Homo sapiens: one gene and its partners. The protein of the gene in region 1 purifies or fractionates together with the protein of each later gene. This does not show direct contact. Each region holds a gene or a part of one and is shown in the gene's direction. Other genes may lie near its edges.

The links.
Region 2: the proteins of PHACTR3 (region 1) and CPVL purify together in Homo sapiens (affinity purification with mass spectrometry; one large-scale study listed by BioGRID and IntAct). This does not show direct contact.
Region 3: the proteins of PHACTR3 (region 1) and G3BP1 purify together in Homo sapiens (affinity purification with mass spectrometry; one large-scale study listed by BioGRID and IntAct). This does not show direct contact.
Region 4: the proteins of PHACTR3 (region 1) and EIF3A purify together in Homo sapiens (affinity purification with mass spectrometry; one large-scale study listed by BioGRID and IntAct). This does not show direct contact.
Region 5: the proteins of PHACTR3 (region 1) and GALNT9 purify together in Homo sapiens (affinity purification with mass spectrometry; one large-scale study listed by BioGRID and IntAct). This does not show direct contact.
Region 6: the proteins of PHACTR3 (region 1) and GTF2I purify together in Homo sapiens (affinity purification with mass spectrometry; one large-scale study listed by BioGRID and IntAct). This does not show direct contact.
Region 7: the proteins of PHACTR3 (region 1) and NSUN2 purify together in Homo sapiens (affinity purification with mass spectrometry; one large-scale study listed by BioGRID and IntAct). This does not show direct contact.

The regions. Positions count from the first base shown.
Region 1 is NC_000020.11:59,772,040-59,775,539, forward strand, and holds part of PHACTR3 (phosphatase and actin regulator 3), read left to right. Parts: intron 1-1,239; coding exon 1,240-1,414; intron 1,415-2,203; coding exon 2,204-2,451; intron 2,452-3,500.
Region 2 is NC_000007.14:29,000,038-29,003,537, reverse strand, and holds part of CPVL (probable serine carboxypeptidase CPVL isoform b precursor), read left to right. Parts: intron 1-2,153; exon of another isoform or gene 2,154-2,209; intron 2,210-2,482; exon of another isoform or gene 2,483-2,569; intron 2,570-3,500. UniProt on the Homo sapiens protein: May be involved in the digestion of phagocytosed particles in the lysosome, participation in an inflammatory protease cascade, and trimming of peptides for antigen presentation.
Region 3 is NC_000005.10:151,788,954-151,792,453, forward strand, and holds part of G3BP1 (ras GTPase-activating protein-binding protein 1), read left to right. Parts: intron 1-1,369; coding exon 1,370-1,451; intron 1,452-1,935; coding exon 1,936-2,109; intron 2,110-3,500. UniProt on the Homo sapiens protein: Protein involved in various processes, such as stress granule formation and innate immunity. Plays an essential role in stress granule formation.
Region 4 is NC_000010.11:119,060,318-119,063,817, reverse strand, and holds part of EIF3A (eukaryotic translation initiation factor 3 subunit A), read left to right. Parts: intron 1-2,489; coding exon 2,490-2,594; intron 2,595-2,706; exon of another isoform or gene 2,707-2,835; intron 2,836-2,973; coding exon 2,974-3,072; intron 3,073-3,500. UniProt on the Homo sapiens protein: RNA-binding component of the eukaryotic translation initiation factor 3 (eIF-3) complex, which is required for several steps in the initiation of protein synthesis.
Region 5 is NC_000012.12:132,260,090-132,263,589, reverse strand, and holds part of GALNT9 (polypeptide N-acetylgalactosaminyltransferase 9), read left to right. Parts: intron 1-964; coding exon 965-1,131; intron 1,132-2,467; coding exon 2,468-2,642; intron 2,643-3,500. UniProt on the Homo sapiens protein: Catalyzes the initial reaction in O-linked oligosaccharide biosynthesis, the transfer of an N-acetyl-D-galactosamine residue to a serine or threonine residue on the protein receptor. Does not glycosylate apomucin or SDC3.
Region 6 is NC_000007.14:74,748,218-74,751,717, forward strand, and holds part of GTF2I (general transcription factor II-I), read left to right. Parts: intron 1-807; coding exon 808-873; intron 874-1,050; coding exon 1,051-1,234; intron 1,235-3,143; coding exon 3,144-3,199; intron 3,200-3,500. UniProt on the Homo sapiens protein: Interacts with the basal transcription machinery by coordinating the formation of a multiprotein complex at the C-FOS promoter, and linking specific signal responsive activator complexes.
Region 7 is NC_000005.10:6,626,545-6,630,044, reverse strand, and holds part of NSUN2 (RNA cytosine C(5)-methyltransferase NSUN2), read left to right. Parts: intron 1-3,500. UniProt on the Homo sapiens protein: RNA cytosine C(5)-methyltransferase that methylates cytosine to 5-methylcytosine (m5C) in various RNAs, such as tRNAs, mRNAs and some long non-coding RNAs (lncRNAs).

The DNA.
Region 1 (3,500 bases):
AAAGGAGCTGATGGTCTCATTTTACAGGCAAGTAGGCTAAGCCTTTGAGAGCTTCAGTGACTTGCCCAGAGTCTTGCATACTGGGAAATGGCAGATCAAGACCAGAGGCCAAATCTGCAGAAGACAAAGCCCATGCTCTCTGCTCTTCCGGGCACCTGACACCCTGCTGGCCCGGAGCACATGCAGGAGACTGTCATTGATGGAAGGAGGGGGTGTCCCACTCATTTAGACTTGAATGAGCAAAGCCTGTTTAGAATCATCTTCAAAGTCATTTCATGTACACAAGTGTTTATTGCCCGTGTTTTAAGTGCCAGGCCTGGGGAAACTGTAGGAAGGAAGGTGGACACAGGCCTGCCCAGGAGCAAGAAACAGACTGGGCAGCGTGATTCACTCCAAGTAAGAGGAAAAGTGTCAGGGCAGGCTCAGGTCCCAGGGGACAGGAGACGAGGGATCTGATCATGGCCTCTCTAAGGAAATGGTATTCTAGCAGAGGAGCGGGGAAGCATTTCAGGCAGAAAGAACAGCCCATGCAAAGACTCAGGTTGGACGGAGTGTGGTGCCTTCAAAGACGGGAGAGATCTTCACATGCTGGAGTGAAGAGAGTGAGGTGGAGATGCAGCTAGGGAGCCGAGTGGGGCCACCCCCAGGGGCCTTGAGACTGGGCCATGAGTTCGAATCATGTCCTAAGGAAGATGGGAGAGTGATCCAATTCACCTTCTGGGGTGATCCTCCTGGCAGAGATACAGGGAGAGGGTTGGAGCCCAGAAATTTATTCCTTACTGTTCTGGGGGCTGGAAGTGCAAGCCCAAGGTGCTGGAACAGATGCTGTGGGGAGGGCAGAGCGGACCATGGTGCTCATCCAGGCTGAAGGGTGGCTGCACAGATTCTTCCGGGTTTCCCAAGAACAAGAAGCAGCTTCAGGAAGCTGAATTCATAGCAGAGAAGCAGGAAGGAGGCTTTTCTAAGCCCAGCGCCCTGCAGGGAGGATGCTGGTGCTGGTGTCTGCAAGGCTTGGCCCCTAACAGGGTTTGCCCTACAGATGGAGCAGAACTGGACAGAGATGCACCCTGGCCTCTAGCTTTGGGAGCAGGGATCCCGGTCCAGCATCTTGGCATTAGTTGGGGCCCCTCCTGGAGGTGCAGGGGAGCGTCCTTTCCGCTCATGGTCCCCAGTCTCAGCAAAACCCTTGGTCCCAGCTCCTGAAGACCTATGTTCTTGCTGCTTCCTCCCACACCCCAGGCCAAGCCACACTCTTCCAAGCCTCCAGCATGAAGAGTGCCGACCCTTCCCTCCGGGGCCAGCTCTCCACACCCACGGGGTCTCCGCATCTCACCACGGTCCACCGGCCTCTTCCCCCAAGCCGCGTCATTGAGGAGCTGCACAGGGCGCTGGCCACGAAGCACCGCCAGGACAGGTGAGGCCCTGCCCCATGAGGGAGACCTGTGCTGCCAGAATCCCTGCCTGGCCAGCCTCAGGCTGTGCAGCTCATGCCACGCCCAGGGCCTTGGCTGGGTGTCCCGTTCTACAGTCACTTTCTGAACAAGGAAGTCACATTTTCATTTTGCACCTCGCTCTGCAGATTGCATAGCTGATCTTGGTTCCCACATTCTGGGACGGGGTGCACAGTGAATGTGCACTATGGGAACCTGGCCACAAAGTCCTGTGCGTGAGCCCCTCAGGACCCAGGGTGGGGTGGGAGCTTTGCAGGAGAGACTGACTTAGAGAAAAGTGGCCGTTCCACTTTGTCCCAGGACACTGAGGGCTTCATAGTTGTCACTGGGCAAGAGTGTAAGGCAGCCTGTGCCTGCAGCTTACTCTTATTTTGGATCACATGTGTCTCATGGACTGTGAAAGATTAGAGGTAAAATAGGTAATAGGAGACAGTATGGGTTGGAGGAATATTAGACAAACAAAATGTCCTTCTCAGTTTTTGTGAAGTCCTCGCCCTGAACATTGATTGCATGTATTTTGGCAGGTTTTATTACTTGCATGTTCTGTGCTTTTCAAAACAGCATGTTGTAAACAGCCATTTGCCTTGAACTCAAATCCTCATGCTCCTTCTGGTGTGTCCAGGATAAAAACCAAGAGGTCACATGCATTTTGGGGCTGCCTCTGTGATATTCATTATAAGCTCCAAAGTCAATCGTGCTGGGTTTCTGGGTGAAGGGGGTGACCTATAACCTGAACCATCTTTCTGGTTTAGTTTTCAAGGAAGAGAAAGTAAAGGGTCTCCAAAGAAGCGGCTGGATGTCCGTCTGTCGAGAACGTCCAGCGTGGAGCGGGGCAAGGAGAGGGAGGAGGCTTGGAGCTTTGACGGGGCATTGGAGAACAAGCGAACTGCCGCTAAGGAATCTGAGGAGAACAAGGAGAACCTGATCATAAATTCTGAACTCAAAGACGACTTGCTTTTGTATCAGGACGAGGAGGCGCTGAACGACTCCATTATTTCTGGTGAGGAAAGGATGGCCCATTAAGTGTGGGGATCTCGGCCAGAGGTCTAGTGTCACCAGGGGGTCGAGGACAGAGCTCGTGCCTGGGGGAGGAACAGGTCGAGGGGCTGCACCTGGGGAGAAACAAGAGGGGGGCTGTGTCCTCTGGAAATGAGCTTCTCCTGAAACAAGCTGGGGTGGGGGTGCACAGCCAGGCTTAGAGCAAGGAACTAGAAAATACCCCGGTGAAATTGTTTTGAGAGTTGCATATTAGTTTTCATGTGTATGTGAAAAAAAAAAACAACATAAAAGTGGTGAAGCAAGTGACTTAGAGAATGCCACCCCTGAGGATGCTGTGGCGAACAGTATATAGTTGGTGTACAGATGCTCAGTGTACAGAAGTTATAGCAAAAACAAAAACAAAAAAAAACTGTAACAAGTAAAGCAGGACGAGATGGAAGCAGGGGGAGAGGGAGGAAGAGAGATTGCTCTATTGATCTCAAATGGCCGTCTCAGAAGTGCTGTGGATGGGACAGGCAGCATACGCTTGTTTGGGAGCAGATGCTCACAGGGTCCTTGGAAGCCAGCTCCGTATTTGTCCTCATGGTGCGTTCTCCCATGAGGTAATTGCTCCATCCTACCCTTGAGGACTCCGGGGCTCGGGACGATAGAGGCCTGCAGACCACCCTGTGATGAAGGGAGAAGGAGGCTCAGGCCAGGAGGAGGAAGTGCTGAGGGGGTTTCCCTCCCAGCTGGTACTGGCTGTGCGGGGCCCTCTGATTAGTCCCAGGAAGGTCCAGGGCGGCCGTGGTGTTTGGCCTGCAAGGGAAGGATCAGGAAGCGTCCGTTGCTGTTCTTCCTGGAAGCATCTCATGGTGACTGTTGCGGGCATGGGCAAAGCTCAGGCCACGTCTCCCTGGGTGTCTGTGGGGAGCAGGAAAGGGCATCAGATGTCGGTGCTGACCCTGGCTGGTACTGAAGGCATGCGGTGGGTACTGTGATGGGTGGATAGACCGGCAGCCCAGGGCTCCATAGCCTCCCGCTTCCTGCTGCTTTGGAGCCTTTCCACCG
Region 2 (3,500 bases), on another chromosome or scaffold:
TTCATTCTCCTCTGCATTTTCATGTTTCCATTACGGATAATTTTCCTTCTGTCTGAAGAACAGTCTTTCGTACTTCTTTTAGTGCAGGTCTGCTGACAAAAACCTTTTCCAATTTTTTGTTTCCTTGAAAATATCTTTACAAGGTCTTCATTTCTATACAAGTTCTAGGTTGGCAGATATTTTATTTAAGAACTTTCAAGATATTATTTCACTGTCTTCCAGCTTTCATTGTTTCTGTTGAATAGTCAGTTTTCTTGCTGCTTTGAAGGTACTGAAAGTACTGTTTCCTTTTCTGTGACAGCTTTTAAGATTTTCTCTGTCTTTGCTTTTAGCAAAATGCTATTCTCTCTGTGTGTGTGTGTGTGTGTGTGTGTGTGTGTGTGCACATACACATACTATAGTGTAATATACTATTACTAATATACTATTATGTGTACTATGATGTGGTTAGTTTGCTTTGTGTTTATTCTATCTAGGATTCATAGAGCTTCTCAAAACTGGCTTGGTAACTTTTGTCAATTTTGGAAATTTTTCAGTCAGTATCTCTGAATGTTACTATTTGTTTCTTTTGCCCCATTTCTTCCTTATCATTTTATCCTAAAATTCCAGTTAAACATAAGTTAAATGTTTCATGGTTTCATGTCGTCTTCTTCTTCTTTTTTTTTTTTTTTGAATTTTCATACCTTTATTCTCCATGCTTCAGTCTGGATATCCTCTACTGACCTAACTTCCAGTTCATATAGTGTTTCTTCTGCATGCCTAATCTATTGCTAAAACATCGATCGAGTTCTTAATTTCAATGAACAATGAATGAGTAACTTTTTAGTTAAAGAACTTCCATTTGATTCTCTTGTATATATTCTAATTATCTTGTGAATTATTTTTCTATACCTAACATCTTGCATATTTTGTTCACAGTTACTTTAAAATGTGTACCTGGTAACTCTAATATCTGGATCATTTGTGGTCTCTGTTATCTTTTTTTCTCCTTAAATTTTAGTCATTGCTCTTGTTCTTTGTCATGCCTATTAAATTTTATTAAATGTTGAAGAAAATGTACAAAAAATATATGAAGAAAAATGTTATTTTTCTTCCAAAAGGATTTAATTTTTTCTAGAAGGCATACAGAGTAGAGGCATATCACCTTGATAAAGTTTGGGATTGAGACGATTGATTCAGTGCTTGATTTCAAGGTTTGTGAGGACTAACCTGTTTCTGGTTTGTTATTACTTCCAAGGCATTGTCTTTCACGGATCTGATGGAAAGCCTGCAGTGCTTACCAGTGCTGTCCCTCCTTGACAGGCTTGCAACTCCAATTTTTTGTTGTTGTTGTTTCTTTTGGGGTTTTCTTTGTTTTTGTTTTTTGGTCTCTCAAGCACCGTAAGACTAATGAGCTTTTCATTCTCTTATCTGCCGCTTTTGACTTGGCGTCTTGGTCAGAGAAGCTTAAAAATTGGTGAATTTCCCAAAGGGAAAAGCAGCACAAAATGTTAGGCTCACTTCCTTGTGATTCCCTTTTCTCTACGATCATGGCCTCTCTCAAGGCTTGGTTGCTCTCTGATACCTTTAAACAGCTTATTTTCTTTTTAATTCAGCTTCTATTGTTTTCTGTGGAATAAGATTGGTTTGGTACATGCTATTGTGTCACAGTCAGAAGTGGAAGTCCTAAATTACAAACAGTATTGTTGCAACTGATTAAGATGGTGTACATAGGAAGCCCCTTGGGGATGTTGTAAAGGAGCACCAAAAGTTTTAACTGCTCTAGAATATGTACCATTATGATGGCTACATGTGGGTCTCCTGAAGCACCTAGAAGCTCCTTTTCTCATTCTATTCAATAACCATTTGCTACACCAGAGGTGTACAGTGGGAGACCTCAAGAATCGTTTCCCTGAGTGCTGTTGAAGCAACTCCCAGCCTTGATCTCTGCTGTTTTTTCATTCTTTCGAAAGTGACTTATTGCATTCTTTGTTAGGAAGTGTCTGCTAACAAGCTTTGGCTTGTTTTTTATTCTCGTTCCCAAGTACCTTTTCAATATATTTTTATTTGAATGCTATTTACGTTATTTCTACTTATAGTTAGTGTCTGAAAGCAAACTAAAAGATAAGATTTAGTAAATGTGGAATGGCATAAAAGTAGTGAAAAGAACTTACATGTAAATCAGAAACCACAACAAGCAGATTCTCTTGAGGGTATGCATCTTTCTATACTGGAAAGCAGAAACAATAAACCAATCCTACATATTCTGCCTGCCAAACTTGCAGCTCCCATGTGGCTCTTTTCTCTTTCCTGGTGAGTAGCACCACCTTTGCAAATCTGCCCATGTCAGAAGCCTGAAATGGGGAGGATTTGTTGGGGATGGGTAGAGAAAGTCTCACTTAACCTTTATATCGGATTAATCACTGATTTTATTGGTTCCATCTTACTACCCTCTTCTCCTTCCCCTTCTCCCCATCCCTCCCATGAGCCCACATCCTCTCACCTGATTTGGTAGTCTCCTAATTTGCCTCCTTGTACCAGTATGACTCCCTTCCAAATTAGCCTTCTCCTTAGACATTAAGTCATTTTTCTACAATGCAAACATAAGCATGTCACTACCCTACTTAAAACCCTCTAGGATATATCCAGAATAGGCAAGTCTATAGAGACAGAAAGCAGATTAATGGTTGCCAGGGGCTGATGGGGAGAGGGGGAGTGGGAAGTGATTACTGATGTATATGGGTTTCCTTTGGGGTGGTGAAAATATTCTGCAACAAGATAGTGTGAATATACTAAATGCTACCGAATCATACGCTTTAAAATGGTTAAAGTGGTAATTTTATGTTAAGTGTATTTTACCACAGTTGCTTTTAAAGCCCGATAGGATAAGGTCCACTCATCCCAGCATGTCACTTGGGGCATCACATGGTCCCACTAGCGTTTGCCTGTTCATCTGTCTCTTCTGTTTCCCTCTATTCCTGCATGAATGGGACGACATACAGACTGCTGCATGCGCCCGCAGCTTCACGGCCCCTGCATTTCCACACAGAATTTCCTTTGTCTGCGGTGATCCCTCTGCTGCACGTGCCCACAGTTTCATGCCCCTGCATTTCCATGCCTCCTGCATTTCCACGCCTCCTGCATTTCCACACACAGTTTCCTCTGTCTGCGGTGATCCCTCCACCCCCACCCCACCCACCCACCACTCTCCGTCCAGTGATCTCCTTCAAGACCCCCAAGAAGCTTCCCCTGACACATCTACATCAACAAGCCCACTGTGAACTTCCCTCTCTTTTCTGTCATCTAAACAGGCACAACTGGGAAACCTTTACTGGCAGGTCTTTGTTTCTAGTTCCAGGGAGAATTATATTGTTTTCTAAAAAATAAAGTGGAATGAAGCTTTAAAGTGTTTGTATAACCCTGTTGAAATTCATGACACATTTGTGACCCCCTGGAACATCTGGAACACATGAAGTTAGAGGCTGCAGCTCTAGTGTGGAGGCACCCAAAATAGACAGTTC
Region 3 (3,500 bases), on another chromosome or scaffold:
TTTGGTGGAGACGGTTTCCCTGTGTTGGTCAGGCTGGTCTCGAACTTCCGACTTCAGGTGATCCGCCCACCTTGGCCTCCCAAAGTGTTGGGATTACAGGCGTGAGCCACCGTGCCCAGCCTTTTTTTGTATTTTTATATTTGGTTAATTTCTTTCTACCCCATAGAATAAAACTGACATAAAACATAACAAAAAGAAAAAAGCATAGGCCAGGCATGGTGGCTTATGCCTGTAATTCTAGCACTTTGAGAGGCTGAGGTGGGCGGATCACTTGAGGTCAGGAGTTCAAGACCAGCCTGGCCAATATGGCAAAGCCTTCTCTCTATACTAAAAATACAAAAAAAGGCGGAGGTTGCAGTGAGCTAAGATTGCGCCATGGCACTCCAGCCTGAGCAACAGCACAAGACTCTGTCTTAAAAAAAAAAATGTATTTATCTGGAAGACAAATGTCAAATCTTAATAGTGGTTATCCCTGGATTAGAGCATTTTGGTGTGTTGCTTTCCTGGTAGAATATTGTTTTAATGAAAATGGATCAAAGGAGGACATAGATGGGTGAAAACCATGAGGAATTGACTTTGACATTCTTAATTGCATCAGCAGAAATAGTTAAAAAGTACTTCTAAAACCACTTGCATGAACTAGGTGTTTAAGGGGAACCGCTCACGCTTATTCTCAGATACATTAATAAAAGGACACTTGAAGTCTATGAAGAAGATAGCTGTTCCAGCCTTACCGCACATTTTCTTCCTGAGTGAAAATAGGAACTTATGTATTGGTGGCCATCTTGACATGAAACTACAAGATCCTTCCCAACAGTATCATCCTACACTGAAACCTGGAACCAAATCCATTCCCATTCAGCAAATGTTGATCAAGTGGCATGTAGGGGATACAGAGATGATTGCATACAAAGATGAAAAAGAAAACGTTTCTGCCAGGGCCAGGCGCGGTGACTCACACCTACAATTCCAGCACTTTGGGAGGCCAAGGCAGGTAGAATTGCTTGAGTTTGAGTTCGAGACCAGCCTGGGCAACATAGTTGACCTTATCTCTACTTAAATAAAAATAATCAGCCAGGCATGGTGGCATGTGACTGTAGTTCCAGCTACTTTGGGAAGCTGAGGTGCCATTGCACTCCAGCCTGGTCAGCAAGAGCAAAAAAAAAAAAAAAAAAAATGTGCACATCAAAGATCATAGCCCCGGCACATCGAAGCTGCAATGAGCTATGATTGCATCACTGCACTCCAGCCTGGGTGACAGAATGAGACCCCGTTGCAAAAAAAAAAAAAAAAGTTTGCCAGTATCAGACGTGAAAAATAAACTTAAGATACTTGAAGATGACAAGTAAATCATCTTCCCATTTTACAGATTTTATGGAAAGAACTCTTCTTATGTCCATGGGGGATTGGATTCAAATGGAAAGCCAGCAGATGCAGTCTACGGACAGAAAGTAAGCATTTCAAGCCTTATTTAGGCTGTTAAGCAGGTAGAAAATAACTCATAAAATTGAAGTGGATCATACTTAATAGATTTGCTGATAAAGATCCAGTTTCTCAACTTTTTAGTAAAAGTTGATGTGTTTTATTACTATTTGATTAATATATTTGTTGAAATACTTATGTGATGTCAGATTTGTTAATTTTGTATGATATATTCTAAAGCTTTTGTGTGTTGGAAGATAATTGGCTTTAGCATGGGGATCATCTTTTCTAAACTTTGAAAAGTGTGTTAATTCAGGACAGTTATTTAAAAAACTCAAGCGCGGTCACTGGGAATAGAGTATACAAAGAAACATCAAAATTCAGTCTGCATATCCTGTAATTTAAATATACACATTCTCTTTGTGTTGTGTTGGAAGGTTTTTTTTAGTTGGAGGTTATTTAAATTTTAAGGCATTCTCAGTTGATTATTATTATTATTATTATTTTTTTAAGGAAATCCACAGGAAAGTGATGTCACAAAACTTCACCAACTGCCACACCAAGATTCGCCATGTTGATGCTCATGCCACGCTAAATGATGGTGTGGTAGTCCAGGTGATGGGGCTTCTCTCTAACAACAACCAGGCTTTGAGGAGATTCATGCAAACGTTTGTCCTTGCTCCTGAGGTATGTGTAGGAATGATTATTTTGTAGTGATCCAATACATGAAAAAAGAAACAATGAACTGTTGTGCATATCTTTAAAAACACTTGAAATTTCAGACTTACAGAAAACTTGGAATAATAGTACACTAACTCCTATATACTCCTTACCTAGAGCAGCTGTCACCACTTGCCCACATGTGTATAATTCTTTCTCTAAAATAGTTTAGTGGGCATTTCCTAAGAATAATTCTCTTCCATTCTGTAGTACAGTTATCAAATTCAGGAAATGTTGATGCAATATAATCTATAATCCATTTTTAAAATTTGGAAATTATCTCAATAATGTCTTAACAGTAATTTTTTTTCCTTGTCCAACATGGAATCTATAATTACACATTGCATTTAGCTATCATGTCTCTAGTCTCTTCTAATCTGCACTTGTTCCTTAATCTTTTGTTTTTTTTTATTGCATTGACATTTTTGAAGAGCACACTTTTTTTGTAGGATGCTTTATGGGTGTCATTCAGTGCTTCACATTAGGCATATTATGTCATTTAGTTGTGATATGAATTTTGATTAGTTAGGTTTTGCCACTGTAAAGTTAAATATCTTTTCTCTCTCTCTCTTTTTTTTTGAGACGGAGTCTCACTGTATCGTCCAGGCTGGAGTGCAGTGGCTCCATCTCTGCCCACTGCAACCTCCGCCTCCTGGTTTCAGGCTGTCCTCCTGACTCAGCCTCCCGAGTAGCTGGGACTATAGGCGTGTGCTACCGTACTCGGCTGATTTTAGTATTTTTAGTAGTGATGGGGTTTCACCATATTCGTCAGGCTGGTCTCTAACTCCTGACCTCAAGTGATCTGCCTGCCTCAGCCTCCGAAAGTGGGATTACAGGTGTGAGCCACCATGCCCAGCCTTATTTTTTCTCTTTTTGATTTGTAAATGAAGGATGGGAGATTCTCTATCTTTTTATCTTTCTTGAACACTTATGGCAAAATATTTTCCAGGTTCATCTTGCACTGTTCCTGGCCCAGTCCCTATTCTTGAATCAGCTGTTCCTTCAAGGAGGCCTGGTTCTTTTTAGTTATACTTATGAAAGGACGACAAGTTTATGTTGAATGATTGCATTTGTGTTTTCTTCCGGATTGGTCTAGACTGAACAAGGTTAGGAATCCTGTCTGCTTAAGCATGTATATAGAAATGGCATAGTAAGAAATTGTTGATTAAATCATTGTTTTCTCTAGCATTAATCTTAAGTTTTCTTTTTAGGATAGCAAACCTGAAACGCCTAAAATCTTTTAACCTTTGAATATGAGATAACTTTTTGTCTGTGCAAAATTACATGAAGCCAATTATAGTCATAATTTTTAGAGGAAGGCTTAGATTAAAATGTAAAGATGTGGTAGACTTCTAAAT
Region 4 (3,500 bases), on another chromosome or scaffold:
CCACCGTGCCGGCCAGATTTGTGTATCTTTTTAGTGTTTCGCATTGATGGAATCTTCCATTCAGTGGAAATTTGTTGAGTGCCTGTTATGTGCCTAGCAAGTGAAACTGAAGGCAGAAGTTGTATTCTAGGGGAGCTGAGATTCTAGGGATTCTTATCATAATAGTCTGACTTGGTTATTAGAATCACCTCCAGTAGATTACTTTGGGGTAAGAGAAAGAGGGATAAGTACTTGGCTGTATGTTTACCAAAAACGGAATTTAAATCATTAACAGTCCCTAATTCATGAATAGAGCAATAAAGAAATCAAAAAGATAATGGCAGGCTCTCTCAGATATTTTTGAAATGTATTCTGAGGAAACACCTATATTCACTCTGATAAAAGCTAGATAAAAGGCCTAAATTTTCTGCAGTAGTCAATTTAAGAACAAATAACTTTTCTAGATAGTGGCATTTTTCCTTTGTGACATAGTAATGCAGATTCACTTTGTAGCTAACTTTTGCAAAGAGTTCCTGCAGAGCAGCTTTTTTTCTACTTTGTATTCCTCCATGTTTTTTTCTGCTGCCACTGCCCACAGAGTTCAACTTTCTGTTTATGGGGCCGATGTAGGACTCAATGTAATAAAGCAACAGCAGTGTCTTGAGAAAGAAGTTTCATTAGCAAATAAAACATTTGCTAATAAAAAATTTGCTTCTAATTTTTAAAGCTGAAGAAACGTGCCACACTGGAAGGATAATCCACGTCACCTTGTTAAAGGTGATCTTGGCTAGGCGCGGTGGCTCACGTCTAATCCTAGCACTTTGGGAGGCCAAGGCGGGTGGATCACTTCAGGTCAGGAGTTTGAAACGAGCTTGGCCATCGTGGTGAAACCCCGTCTCTACTAAAAATACAAAAAAAAAAAAATTAGCTGGGCATTGTGGTGCATGCGTGTAATCCCAGCTAATCGGGAGGCTGAGGCAGGAGAATCGCTTGAACCCGGGAGGCATAGGTTGCAGTGAGCTGATATCGTGCCACTGCACTCTAGCCTGGGTGACAGAGCAAGACTCCATCTCAAAAAAAAAAAAAAAAAAAAAAGGTGATCTCTTAGACTTAGATTTAATATACTGCAATATGTTGTCCCAGAAGCGAAAGACATTTACAATTGGCTGGAAGTAGAATTTGAGCCACTAAAACTCTGTGAGCAAGTCATTCGGTGATCACTGATGGGTAGCATTGGACCAACAACTAGGGCATCTAGATTAGAGTCCTCATTGTGCCCACAGAGTGTAGACTTCTAGAAGGATACCAGTTAGTGTCAAGTGAATGGATTAGCTGACTGCCAAGAGGCATTTGTCAACTTCTTGAGTTGACCATATATCCAAGGTCAATACCTGAGCGTTAGGCTTCCATAACCAAATTTATGAGACAGAGTGATTCCATTATCTCAGGAAAAGACTCAAACATTCCTAAGAGTGACTTTTAAATCGGAAAGTAAACCAATCATGTATTTTAGTGAGAAATATAATTTAGTAGATTATGGCAGCCTTTCACATTTCCCTATTCGGAAGGGGACTGCATGAAGAATCTAAAATAACTTGATAGGAATGAAATTAGAGCTGGGAATTTTTTTTTTTCTCTTAAAGGCAGATTCTAAGTTAGGGAATTTTATTTGTATGCATATACCACACCTTATTGCAGTAAAGATATATGGATGCTTATAAGGAGGAAGTGTTAGAATGTTGTAGGATTTCAGCCTTGTACCCATTTTACATTAGAGTTAACCTTAGACCTGAGTGCTCCCATGTGTGGGTGCCCTCCTTGCTTGGGGATGCGATCTGCCAATATTTGCCTCAGTTTTGTCACCCACTCTCTATGGGTACACACTTCTGTGCTTTGCTCTATCCCAGCAGTTATTTTGTCCTTGGGTTAACAGTTCCTAAAAAAAATGACATATTCCATGGTAAAATTGAAGTCCATATAAATGGGGTAATATGTGAAATTCTTTTCTCACCGCTATGTTTGTGAGATTTATTCATGTGTTCTATGTAGCTGTTCTTTTTTGAGCATTTTTGTTTATTTTATGAATACACCATATGTGAATTCTCCCCAGTTTGGGGCTATTAGAAATAGTGCTGCCATGATAATTTTTGTGTGATAATTTATATAAAAGTAAAACTGGTATTTTCCTTGTTATTGGTAATAAAATATTCTATTGGCCACAGTAGTTGTCTTTGTGAATATTTAATTGGTTGTAGTTGTGTTTTTTAGAGTTTCATTTCCTTTTTACATACTTGTGGGGCTTTTCACGGTAGGTTAATGTGCATAGTGTGGGGCAAAAGACCCAGCATAGTTGTACTTTGGATTCATTTTTGGTAAATTTAGAGGAGGTTGAGGCTTGATGATTTTTTAAATCATTTTCCAGATTTCCAATGCTATCATTTATACTAAGTTCAGAATTTTAGTTGGAAAATTTCCTTTGGCAGTTACATCTTTTGTTTTGCTTACTGTAGGTCAGATTTAATGTACTACAATATGTTGTCCCAGAAGTGAAAGACCTTTACAATTGGCTTGAAGTAGAATTTAACCCATTAAAACTCTGTGAGCGAGTCACAAAGGTAAGCCTTTGTATTTAAGTTCTGGTTGTTACCACAGAGTTGGCCTTCTTGCAGTTTTGGGTTGTATTCATATTTGTTAAGAGAGAAGTTTTGTCCTATGTGTTGGAATTCAGTGCACATTTCATTGTCTTTTTTCTTTATTTCAAGAGAAAAGATATATCTGATGTGCTCAGCAAACCTTTGGAGGTTAATTAGCAGCATGACTAATTTAGCCATTGCTGCCAGTCACCTTCAAACAAGTATCAGTAGCTTCATGATACATTTTGTATTTCTTTGCATTGGATGATGTTTTTGTATATTAAAAAAAAAAGAGTTTTAGATGTTTTAGTATCTCTTATGTAGAAAGTGTGATTCTCTTTCAATTTAATGGATTTTATAGGTTCTAAATTGGGTTAGGGAACAACCTGAAAAGGAACCGGAATTGCAGCAGTATGTGCCACAACTGCAAAACAACACCATCCTCCGCCTTCTGCAGCAGGTAAAAATAAAAAAATAAAAAAAGTTTTGTGATGTTATGTGCTCATCATGAAACTAAAAACTGGAAAAATCTAGAACTGCCTAGGAAGTGAGAACCTCCCCAAGTTCTGCCCCTGGCAAAAATTAGTCTATTTATTAATTTGAAAATCAGAATTATTATATTTACATATTTTGTAACGGACGCTTTTGTTTTTTGGCTGAACACTGTCTTTGGGCATTTTTCCTTGTTAGTAATGTAGGGCTACCTTATTCCATTTAAGGTACTGTGGTGTATTTATTCAGACTCTCTTGATGAAAACCTGTATTCCTAGATTTTTTTTTTCCCTGTTAGAAATCTTGTAGCATTGAGCATCTTTCATACATGTATCTTTGCATACTTCTATTACTTTCTGTGGCATAAGAAGTGGAATTAGTCATAGGGTTTATGGA
Region 5 (3,500 bases), on another chromosome or scaffold:
TGTGCGCTTGAGGACGGTGAGGGGGGCCACCCCATGGGACAGGACTTGCCACAGGCTTTCTGAGCAGCCCTGCCCCCCTCCCCCTGGGCTCTGGGAGTGCCTCTGCCCACCACCCCAACTCCAAAACCTCTCCTTTCCAACCTGCAGCCGCTCCTGCAGTCCGTCCTAGGACGTACTTCCTTTCTCAGGACTTTCTGTTTTACACATTTTGCAAGTTCATGAAAACTGTGCAATCCAAGCTTTTTCCTCTACAGATGAGTGGAGTGACGTTTTCTTGTCAGAAAGCATTTTTCTGAGTGATGAAATCTCCCTGGCTGAGCACCACAGCCCAGATAAATATGATGGTGGCGCACAGCCCTTGTCCCTTTGAAATTCTCACCAGAGGCTTGGAACCAGCTATGAGCCAGGGCGGGAAGTGGCTGCCTGTGCGGGTGGCTGGCTCCTTGGCTGTGCCCAGCTCCTCGGCTGTGCCCAGCAGCGCCGTCCCCAACGTGCTCCTGAAGCTGATGGCTGGGGTTGGAATCCAAGCACCTGCACTCATGGCCCACAGGGGAGGCTCCTGTCTGTGGAACGGGGACGTTCATCTCCTCTCGGGGTCGCTGTGAGCACGGGGTGGGCACAGGGGCCATGTGTGTGCTGAGTGCTGTGTTACTGTTACTAGTTTCTCTCTGGAACAGCTCTGGCCCCCGTACACCCTTGGCGTCTGGTTGTAGGGTCCAGGCCTTGTCCAGTGACCCTCGAAGGGTGCACCTGGCTCCCGGGGTCCCTCATGCTGCGCCCTGACCACACCCCAAACCGTGTCTCCTGCAGGTGCAGACAGATGAGCTATGGCTCCTGGGGTCCCTCATGCTGCGCCCTGACCGCACCCCAAACCGTGTCTCCTGCAGGTGCAGACAGATGAGCTATGGCTTCCGGGGTCCCTCATGCTGCGCCCTGACCGCACCCCAAACCGTGTTTCCTGCAGGTGCAGACAGATGAGCTACGCCCAGGACCTGCCCCAGGTCTCCGTGGTCTTCATCTTCGTCAATGAGGCGCTGTCGGTCATCCTGCGCTCCGTGCACAGCGTGGTCAACCACACGCCCTCCCAGCTCCTCAAGGAGGTCATCCTGGTGGACGACAACAGTGACAACGGTGAGTGGGCGGGGCCTCGGCACGGTGCTCGCCGGGCGGCTGCCTGTGGCTGGGTTGAGTTGGGGTTGGGTGGAGCCTCCGGGGGCAGAGCGACAGAGGACTGCACCCCATCTGTCCGCAGGGGCTCTAAACCTATGGGGGTCCCTCCTGCCTTCCAGCCTCTGTCATGGCTGCGTACGTGCTGTCCCCAGTGTGTGGCTGCCAGTGCCTCTCTCTGCCTCCATTATGCGGCCTCTCCCATGTGTCTGCATCCTCTCTTCTTCTCATGAGGACCCAGACTAGACACAGAGCTCACCCCAAATCCAGGAGGATTTCATCTCAAGATACTCAACCGGATACATCTACAAAGTCCCTGCTTCCTCTCCTCTCAGGCTCCGGGTGGAGATGAAGTTGGGGTCAGCCACCCCCTTCCACAGAGGCCAGTAGAGCTGAGCTCTCCAGAGTGCCAGTCACGCCTCCCACCTCTCTTGCCCACAGAGGCTCACACCAGAGCTTGGCTGGACAGAGCTCGCAGCTGGAGCCCAAGCCCCATGGTTCCTCAGCGCCACCCTCCTCAGCTTCAGGTCCCCTGAGGGCAGTGCTACTCACACCCTGTAGCACACAGGCTTGAAACCCCAAACAAGGATCTTGCACTGCCCCAGGCCTGTCCCCCATCTGCCCTTCCCAGGCGCAGAGCAGAGAGCCTGCAGCCGTGACACTCCCTCTGGAAATGGAGGAAAACATGGGGAGCCCCTTCCTGACCCCTCGTGGAGGCAGGAGGCTGTGCCATGGGGCTGTGGGGCAAGCTCTGGCCTGCAGCAGTGCCCTAGCCCAGCAGCACCGTCTACACTGGGGTCTGTGTGCAGAGGACTGAATGGCGTGGCTGCCCTCCTGAGCCCTGTCTCGCTGGAGAAGGTGGTGTGTGGGGAGGACCATCCAGTCCAGCTCGGCTACCTGTGTCTTGCCCTTGGCCACAGGGAGCTCCATCAGGACACCCTGCCCCCAGCATGGAAGGCCACGTTTGTGTGTCCACCCATCCATGCATGGACTTGGTTTTTTACAGCTGACTGCAGTCCTGTGTCTCCACAGCATGGGCTGCTGTCTGTCTCTCTGTCTGTCTGTCTGTCTGGTGTGTTTCCTTATTTGCTGTGTCTCCCACTGGAATGTCAGCATCATGAGGCTGGGGTCTCATCTCTCTGTGACCTCCACGCTGAACCACATGTGGTTCAGTGGGTCCTAAGAGAATGTTTACAATACACCCATCCCACACGCGGCACGCAGCATTTCCAGCCTTGGGTCTTGGTGGCCCCGCGCCTGCCAGCACCTGCCAGCGTGCTAAAGTCTTGTCTCTCCTCAGTGGAACTCAAGTTCAATCTGGACCAGTACGTCAACAAGCGGTACCCAGGCCTCGTGAAGATTGTCCGCAACAGCCGGCGGGAAGGACTGATCCGCGCGCGGCTGCAGGGCTGGAAGGCGGCCACCGCCCCAGTCGTCGGCTTCTTTGATGCCCACGTCGAGTTCAACACGGGCTGGTAAGGGCCGGAACAGGCTGGACAGCCAGTCTCAGCGGGTCCCCCTCCACCATCCCCCTCCTAAGCCGCCGTGCGGCTGCAGCCTGGCCGCTGGGTTGGCCCCGGGGCTGGGAGACTCGCCGTAGCCTTCAGGATCTGGGACTGAGAGCCACCACTGAGTCCACCTGTGCGGTTACCTCTGCGGCCTCTCTGTGTCCAGCTCCTGAATGCAAAACCACGGGAGGGCAGGCCCAGCACGCACCCAAGGACATGGCGCTTAGAAGCTCCCAGGCATGTGTATGAGGCTTGGTCTGTGCCCACCTTGCCCCAGGAGAATGTGACCCTGTCCTGACTCCAGCAGGCTCGGGTACCGTGTGTCCCCCGCGGGGTGGGAACCTCAGATCAGGTGGGGTGGGGCTAAGGTGCAGAAGTCCGGCCTCTCAGGCCCTGCTCAGTCACTGGAGATGGCCACGAGTGCCCCCGAGGCCTTAGCCTAGTGCAAGGGGCGTGGGAAGTGAGCTTCTGGGCTGAGGGGGTCACCTTGTGTATGGGGTCCTGGGGCCACCAGCACAAAGCAACCCCTTCTGGGCGGCTCGGAGCAGCAAGACTTCACCTCCTCACCGTTCTGGAGGCCCAGAGCCCGACTCCAAGGTGTGGGCAGGGCCCGACTCCAAGGTGTGGGCAGGGCCGAGTTTCCCCCAGAGGCTCCAGGCCCTTAAGGATCCCTCCCACCTCTCTCAGCTCCTGAGGGCTGCAGCCCCCACCTCCGACCCCCACGCCCTCCCTGTGTCTGTTTCTCCATCCCTGCCTTATGCAAGGACCCTTGTCATTAGAGTTGGGGCAGTCCAGGATGCCCCCAGGCAAACCCCAAAGCCAGCC
Region 6 (3,500 bases), on another chromosome or scaffold:
TATATCAAAGGTTAAAGGAATAGCCCGTAGAGCCAGGCTGCCTGAGTTCAGATCTGAGTTCAAATCCGATGCCACTTGGGCAGGCGAATACACCCTGCCTCAGTTTCCCTTTGTGCAAAATGGTAATAACATTACTTTCTTTCTCATGAGGTTATGGTGAGGATTATAAATACTGTCATTTAAAGTACTTAGAACCATACCTCGCATGTAGTAGAGACTATAATTTGTGGGGGCATTTTGGGGGTTTTCATTTGTTTTTTCTTTATTTTAGCATTTGTTCACTTATTTGTAGTCAACATAAAAGCAATGTACTAAAACAGTTTGCTTATGTATCAGGATGGGAGTAGTTGTCAAGTCATATCATGGTAAAAGATTATGCATTTTTTATTTCTTCTTAAAGATGCACAAATAAGGCCAGGCGCAGTGGCTCACGCCTGTAATCCCAACACTTTGGGAGGCCGAGGTGGGCGGATCACCTGAGGTTGGGAGTTCGAGACCAGCCTGACCAACATGGAGAAACCCCGTGTCTACCAAAAATACAAAATTAGCCAGGCATGGTGGCGCATGCCTGTAATCCCAGCTACTCAGGAGGCTGAGGCAGGAGAACTGCTTGAACTCAGGAGGTGGAGGTTGCAGTGAGCAGAGATCGCACCATTGCCCTCCAGCCTGGGTAACAAGAGCGAAACTCTGTCTCAACAAAAAAAAAATAAGATGCACAAATAAGATGAAACACTCCTGCCTGTGAATGTGTATTGATAAGTACTGTGATAAGTATTGCAATTTAACTCTCTTATGTTTTATATGCAGAGGCCTGGAATGCCAAAATCACGGACCTAAAACAGAAAGTTGAAAATCTCTTCAATGAGAAATGTGGTAAGTCTATTTTGAAACCTTCTTACTGCCACGCAGGGTGCCTTCATGGGAGTAGGAGGGAGCAGAGTGGGATACTGAGCGTTGGAGTATCCCTGTCATTGGCAACGTGTGGGTTTTTCGGGATTGAATGGCGTCATTTCGCCCATGTTCTGTTTCGTGTACGCGGCTGTTTTGCAGGGGAAGCTCTTGGCCTTAAACAAGCTGTGAAGGTGCCGTTCGCGTTATTTGAGTCTTTCCCGGAAGACTTTTATGTGGAAGGCTTACCTGAGGGTGTGCCATTCCGAAGACCATCGACTTTTGGCATTCCGAGGCTGGAGAAGATACTCAGAAACAAAGCCAAAATTAAGTTCATCATTAAAAAGTAAGGAAACTGGATGAAGTGGGATTAGCATGAGTTGATTGTGTTTGACACTGGGAGATGGGTATGTGGGTTTGTGTTTGTGGCAGGGCTGAATTAGCTCTGGAGTCAGAAAAACTGCTTTTTAAGCTGCACTCTTGTATATGTTTAAAACTTCTGGCCAGGTGCGATGGCTCACACCTGTAATCCCAGCACTTTGGGAGGCCAAAGCAGGTGGATTACCTGAGGTCAGAAGTTCAAGACCAACCTGGCCAACATGATGAAACCCATCTCTACTAAAAGTACAAAAATTAGCTGGGCGTGGTGGCACGTGCCTGTAATCCCAGCTACTTGGGAGACTGAGGCAGGAGAATCACTTGAACCCAGCAGGCAGAGGTTGCAATGAGCCAAGATCGTGCCACTGCACTCCAGCCTGGGCAGCAAGAGCAAAACTCCATCTCAAAAACAAAAAAAAAAAAAAAAAAGAAGAAGAAATTTTCCTTATGCTGCTGGTAGAAGGGAAGGAGGACTCCACCATACTAGAGAGATAACGACTTTTGGTTGCTAAATCTACACAGCTATGTTGTTACTATTTGATGCTGCTGGAATCTGAGCAGCTGTTTAGTTTTTCAAGTCCTTTTATTTCTCCAACTTAATAGAATATTTTCAATTTCTCCTGTTTGCTTGAACATCTGTGGATTAGGCTAACATAATTGAAATAGATAGGAATGGGCCGGGTGCGGCCATAAATCCCAGCACTGTGGGAGGCTAAGGCAGGCAGATCACTTGAGGTCAGGAGTTCGAGACCAGCCTGGCCAACATGGTGAAGCCCCATCTCTACTTAAAATACAAAAAAAAAAAAAAAAAATAGCCAGGGGTGGTAGCTGGCACCTATAATCTCAGCTACTCAGGGAGGCTGAGACAGGAGAATCACTTGAACCCAGGAGGCGGAGGAGATCGTGCCATTGCACTCCAGCCTGGATGACAGAGTAAGACTCTGTCTCAAAAAAAATTAAAAAAAGAAATAAGAATAATTGGAATTTTATAGTACATGCTAATGCACATGAATTATTTGAAATCAATTGAAATGAATTTTAGGTTTCATTTGCTTGGTGTCAGGCTTAATTTTGAGTCACCCAGGGATGCTCTCAAGCAAAGCTGGCCACTTTTTTTTTTTTTTTTTTTTTTTTTTTTGTGAGACAGAATCTCGCTCTGTACCCAAGACTGGAGTGCAGTGGTGTGTGATATCGGCTTACTGCAAATTCCGCCTCCTGGGTTCAAGCGATTCTCCTGCCTCAGCCTCCAAAGTAGCTGGGATTACAGGCATGTGCCACCATGCCCAGCTAATTTTTGTATTTTTAGTAGAGAAGGGGTTTCACCATGTTGGTCAGGCTAGTCTCAAACCCCTGACCTCATGATCCGCCTGCCTCGGCCTCCCAAAGTGCTGGGATTACAGGCGTGAGCCACCGCGCCCGGCCAATGGCCACCTTTTATGCTTTTGGCCAGGTCTGCAGAGGTTTGGCAGCCTCTAAGCCCTCTGCTTCTGCTTCCGGAGTGAGAGCCTCAAGTGCTCCTGTTTTCACAGCCCATCTTGTGTTTCCATGCTGCGTTTGTGGGGCGTTTTCTCTTTGCATCCTCAATTCTGGCGCTGATTCTTTTCAGGATACATTCTAACCTTGGAAAGAAGATGCCAATAAAACCAGTGTAGGGGAAGGGCAGCCAATGAGAGGCAGCAATGGATGTTAAATTTACAATTGTGGTTTGTCTTTTTGGCTGTGGTTCTTTAGATAAGCATGTGATTTCTGTTCTTCATGACTAAGAATTGAATTTAGACTTTACAGAGTTACTGGTTTGTAAATCTTTGAGTTGTTTAAATTTTAATGTTAGAGTTTTACTGTTTGATCAGCACATTTTTTTTCTCTTTTGTCTATAGGCCCGAAATGTTTGAGACGGCGATTAAGGAGAGCACCTCCTCTAAGAGCCCTCCCAGTGAGTGTATTTTCTGTATTTTCATTGCTATAGAACACACGCTCTTAGGCATGCATTGTGCAGCTGTGGTTTACAAACATTGTTTAAAGAATAGCCATTGAGGCCAGGCATGGTGGTTCACGCCTGTAATCCCAGCACTTTGGGAGGCTGAGGTGGGTGGATCACCTGAGGTCAGGAGTTTGAGACCAGCCTGGCCAACACGGCAAAACCCTGTCTCTACTAAAAATATAAAAAATTAGCCAGGCGTGGTGGCAGGCGCCTATAATCCCAGCTACTCAGGAGGCTGAGACAGCAGAATCAC
Region 7 (3,500 bases), on another chromosome or scaffold:
TGTTGTACTTGAAGTAGAGGTCTGATACTGTAGTAGTCCATTTTCACACTGTTATAAGGACATACCTGAGTAATGTATAGATAAAGGAAATAGGCTTAATTGACTCACATTTCCACATCGCCGGGGAGGCCTCAGGAAGCTTAAAATCATGGCGGAAGATCTCTCTGCACAGGGTGGCAGGAGAGAGAATGAGTGCTGAGCAAAGGAAGAAGCCCCTAATAAACCATCAGATCTCCCCCTGAGAACGAACTCACTGTTGTGAGAACAACATGAGGGAAACGGCCCGGGGATTTAATTATCTCCACCTCGTCCTGCCCTTGACACGTGGGGAATATTACAATTCAAGGTGAAATTGGGGTGGGAACACAGAGCCAAACCATCTAAAATATTTTAAGAAGACAGGATTACGATTCTCCTCGGGCATGTTTGTATTTTTAGCAGTGATGCATGTATGTGCTGCTTCACACAATCACCTGGAAACATTTGTTTCTAAAACCTTGTGTTTAGAAGCGCAGAGACGGGATAAGAAATGCTTTTAAGATGAAGAAGTTCCTGTCCAGGAGGAACGTTTCAGCATGTGTCTATAGGGAAGAGGTGTGCTCTTAAGGCACCTCCATGTGGGCATTTTCTTCTGCAGGCTCCAACAAACTAGGAGAAACCATACGATGTCAATAAGGCTTGCTAGTTTTTTATTATTCTCTGCAAACTACAGTTACACTTGGATTTGATCAGCCCTTTTAACATTTCATAGCTGCTTTTCCACCTTGTTTAACAATGTGTCTGGGTATATGACAAGGTAATTACCAAACTCTTAGAATCTGCAGGTTGTCTGTAGTTGAAGAATGAAGGTGAATTGCTCTCTGCCAACAGCCAGCTATGTTTTTGTTTGCTTTAATTTTCTGAACACACAGCTGAAGGGTATGAACAAAACATTGTAGATCTGGGTTTCTAATATTTGGCTTTTTCCATTATCAATGATGGTTTCTCTATATTTTATTTTGAGACAGGGTCTCACTCTGTCACCCAGGCTGGAGTGCAGTGATGTCATGACGGTTCACTGCAGCCTTGACCTCCTAGGCTCAAGTGATCCTCCCACCTCAGCCTCCTGAGTAGCTCGGACTACAGGTGCATGCCACCACGCCTGGCTAATTTTTTTTATTTTTTTGTAGAGATGGAGTTTCACCTTGTTGCCCAGGCTGGTCTTGCATTCCAGGGCTCAAGCAATCTTCCTGCCTTGGTTTCCCAAAGTGCTGGGATTACAGACATGAGCCACCATTCCTGGCCAATGCCAGTTTCTTGGCAGCTGTATTCTCTAAACATTTATTTATTCAAATTCATCTGTCAGTTTTAGGGTACTAAATCTCTCAGCAAGCAAGTAAAGCAGAAGCTTTCCAGGACTTCTGGTAATTTTCTGTATTGCTCAAGATGCAGGAATAGATCATGTAATATTCTTCCCAATCCTCTGGTACATAGTGAAATATAATTTAGGAAAACGTTTTTTGAAATTACATTTTCTAGAAGGAAAGTTATGTATAGGACCATAGCTTGGGCCAGTTTCATTTTTTTCTTACTTTCCATAGACTCAGAACAATGAGAAATTATCCTAAAGCATTCTTATAGAAGCATTGTTTTGACAACCAATTGTTCAGAGTGCACCTTATTATCATTCTATTTATGTGCTGTTTACTTATATTTTTTTTTGAGACAAGGTCTCTGTTGCCCAGGTTGGAGTGCAGTGGCATGATCTCAGCTCACTGCAACCTCCACCTCCTGGGCTCAGGTGATCCTCCCACCTCAGCGTCCCAGGTAGCTGGGATTACATGCCCCCATCACCATACCCAGCTATTTTTTCTATTTTTTGTACAGTTGGGGTTTTGCCATGTTGGACAGGCTAGTCTTGAACTCCTGACCTCAAGTGATCCGCCCACCTTGGTCTCCCAAAGTGCTGGTGTTACAGGCATGAGCCACTGCACCTCGCCTGTTACGTGCTTTTTAATGTCTAGATTGAGGATGGTTTGTCATAGATGTTGTATATATTTACAGAGTCCTTACCACTTGAGAATTTTTAATATGCAAAGATGACAGTGGTCCTTTTAACTTATCCTCTAAAAAGCCCAAATAGGATTTTTTCTTAAAAGACACAAGCTAAATTTGAAGTAAGTAACTAAAAATTAAATATACCTCTCATTTTGTTTGATGTTAAAATCTACAAAGATTTAATAAACATTTTTTGGTTCATAAAAAGATGATGCTGTTCCTAAAGCTGTATAAGAAACATAATTTAAAAACATTTCTTGTAGAAACAGGGCCTCGCTTTGTTGCCCAGGCTGTTCTCTGTACCCAGAGGAAATAAACATTTATCTGTTAGTTTCTGTTTGTATTTAAATATTTCAGAGTTCCTAAATGTTTCTTTACATGAGATCAACAGCCTTCACAATTATAAATACTGTAGAATTTTAATCTTGTAATAGTACGTTTACATTTTGACTATCAGAAATTTGACGAAAAAGACATATAAGGCTATATTTGTTCAAAGTATATCTAGACTGCTTATCTATATTTGAAAATGAAAATTCAGCTCTTTACAATAAGTCTAAATGGCATGTGGTGTTCATATTGATGTCTTAGTGATTTGGTAAGGCAATAACTTACATGATCGTACTAGCTTTGAGACAGACAAGTTCAGGAAGACCAGATACTATATGAGCTGGCATTTGGCTGTTTGCAAGTAGAGGTTACAGTGGCACAGCAGATATTTGCCCAATACTATAGCAAATGCCAAATTTGCATGTAACCTACTATTTCGCCTCTAATGAGTCCAAAAGATTATTTAAAACAATTCTTTTTAAAATTGCCTTATGAATATGATTTTCTTTTGGCTTTATATTTTTGAACACATTAAATGTCGAGGAGGGAACTGGGCTATATGAGATAGAATCAAAGCGCTGGGGACCTTTGGAGGGTGGCCGTGGACAGATTCAGCCAGTTTCGTCTTCATTATTTGGTAGAAAATGCTTTTCAGGTATATTTTGTAATATTTTGACTTGAGCAGTGTCGGGCTTTTAAGTCCTGAGTTTGTTTCCATCAAAAAATCAGAGTTTAAAAGCAGTCAAATGTGTTTGTGTTTTCCAGACATTCCAGTTTTATTTTCATGGTTTTCACTCTAGCTACAATTTGACGCATGGAAACATTGTGAGCCTGCATTGTTAAATTGAGTGTATTACTGCATCTCAGGTTTAGTGAGAATTGCTGAAACTACACTAAGATTTATGGCCGTGTGACGTGGTACACTTGGTTTGGCATTGGATTGAGCATGGTGCTGCATGACATCAGTGTGCTCATTTGTACGGTGCAGATGCCTGTATAGGTGCAGGCCAAGTTTCAAAGCACATCCTGGGTGGGGTACAGTGGCTCATGCCTGTAATCCCAACACTTTGGGAGACTGATGCGGCCGGATCACTCGAGGCCAGGAGTTCGAGACCAAGCTGGCCAACACGGCA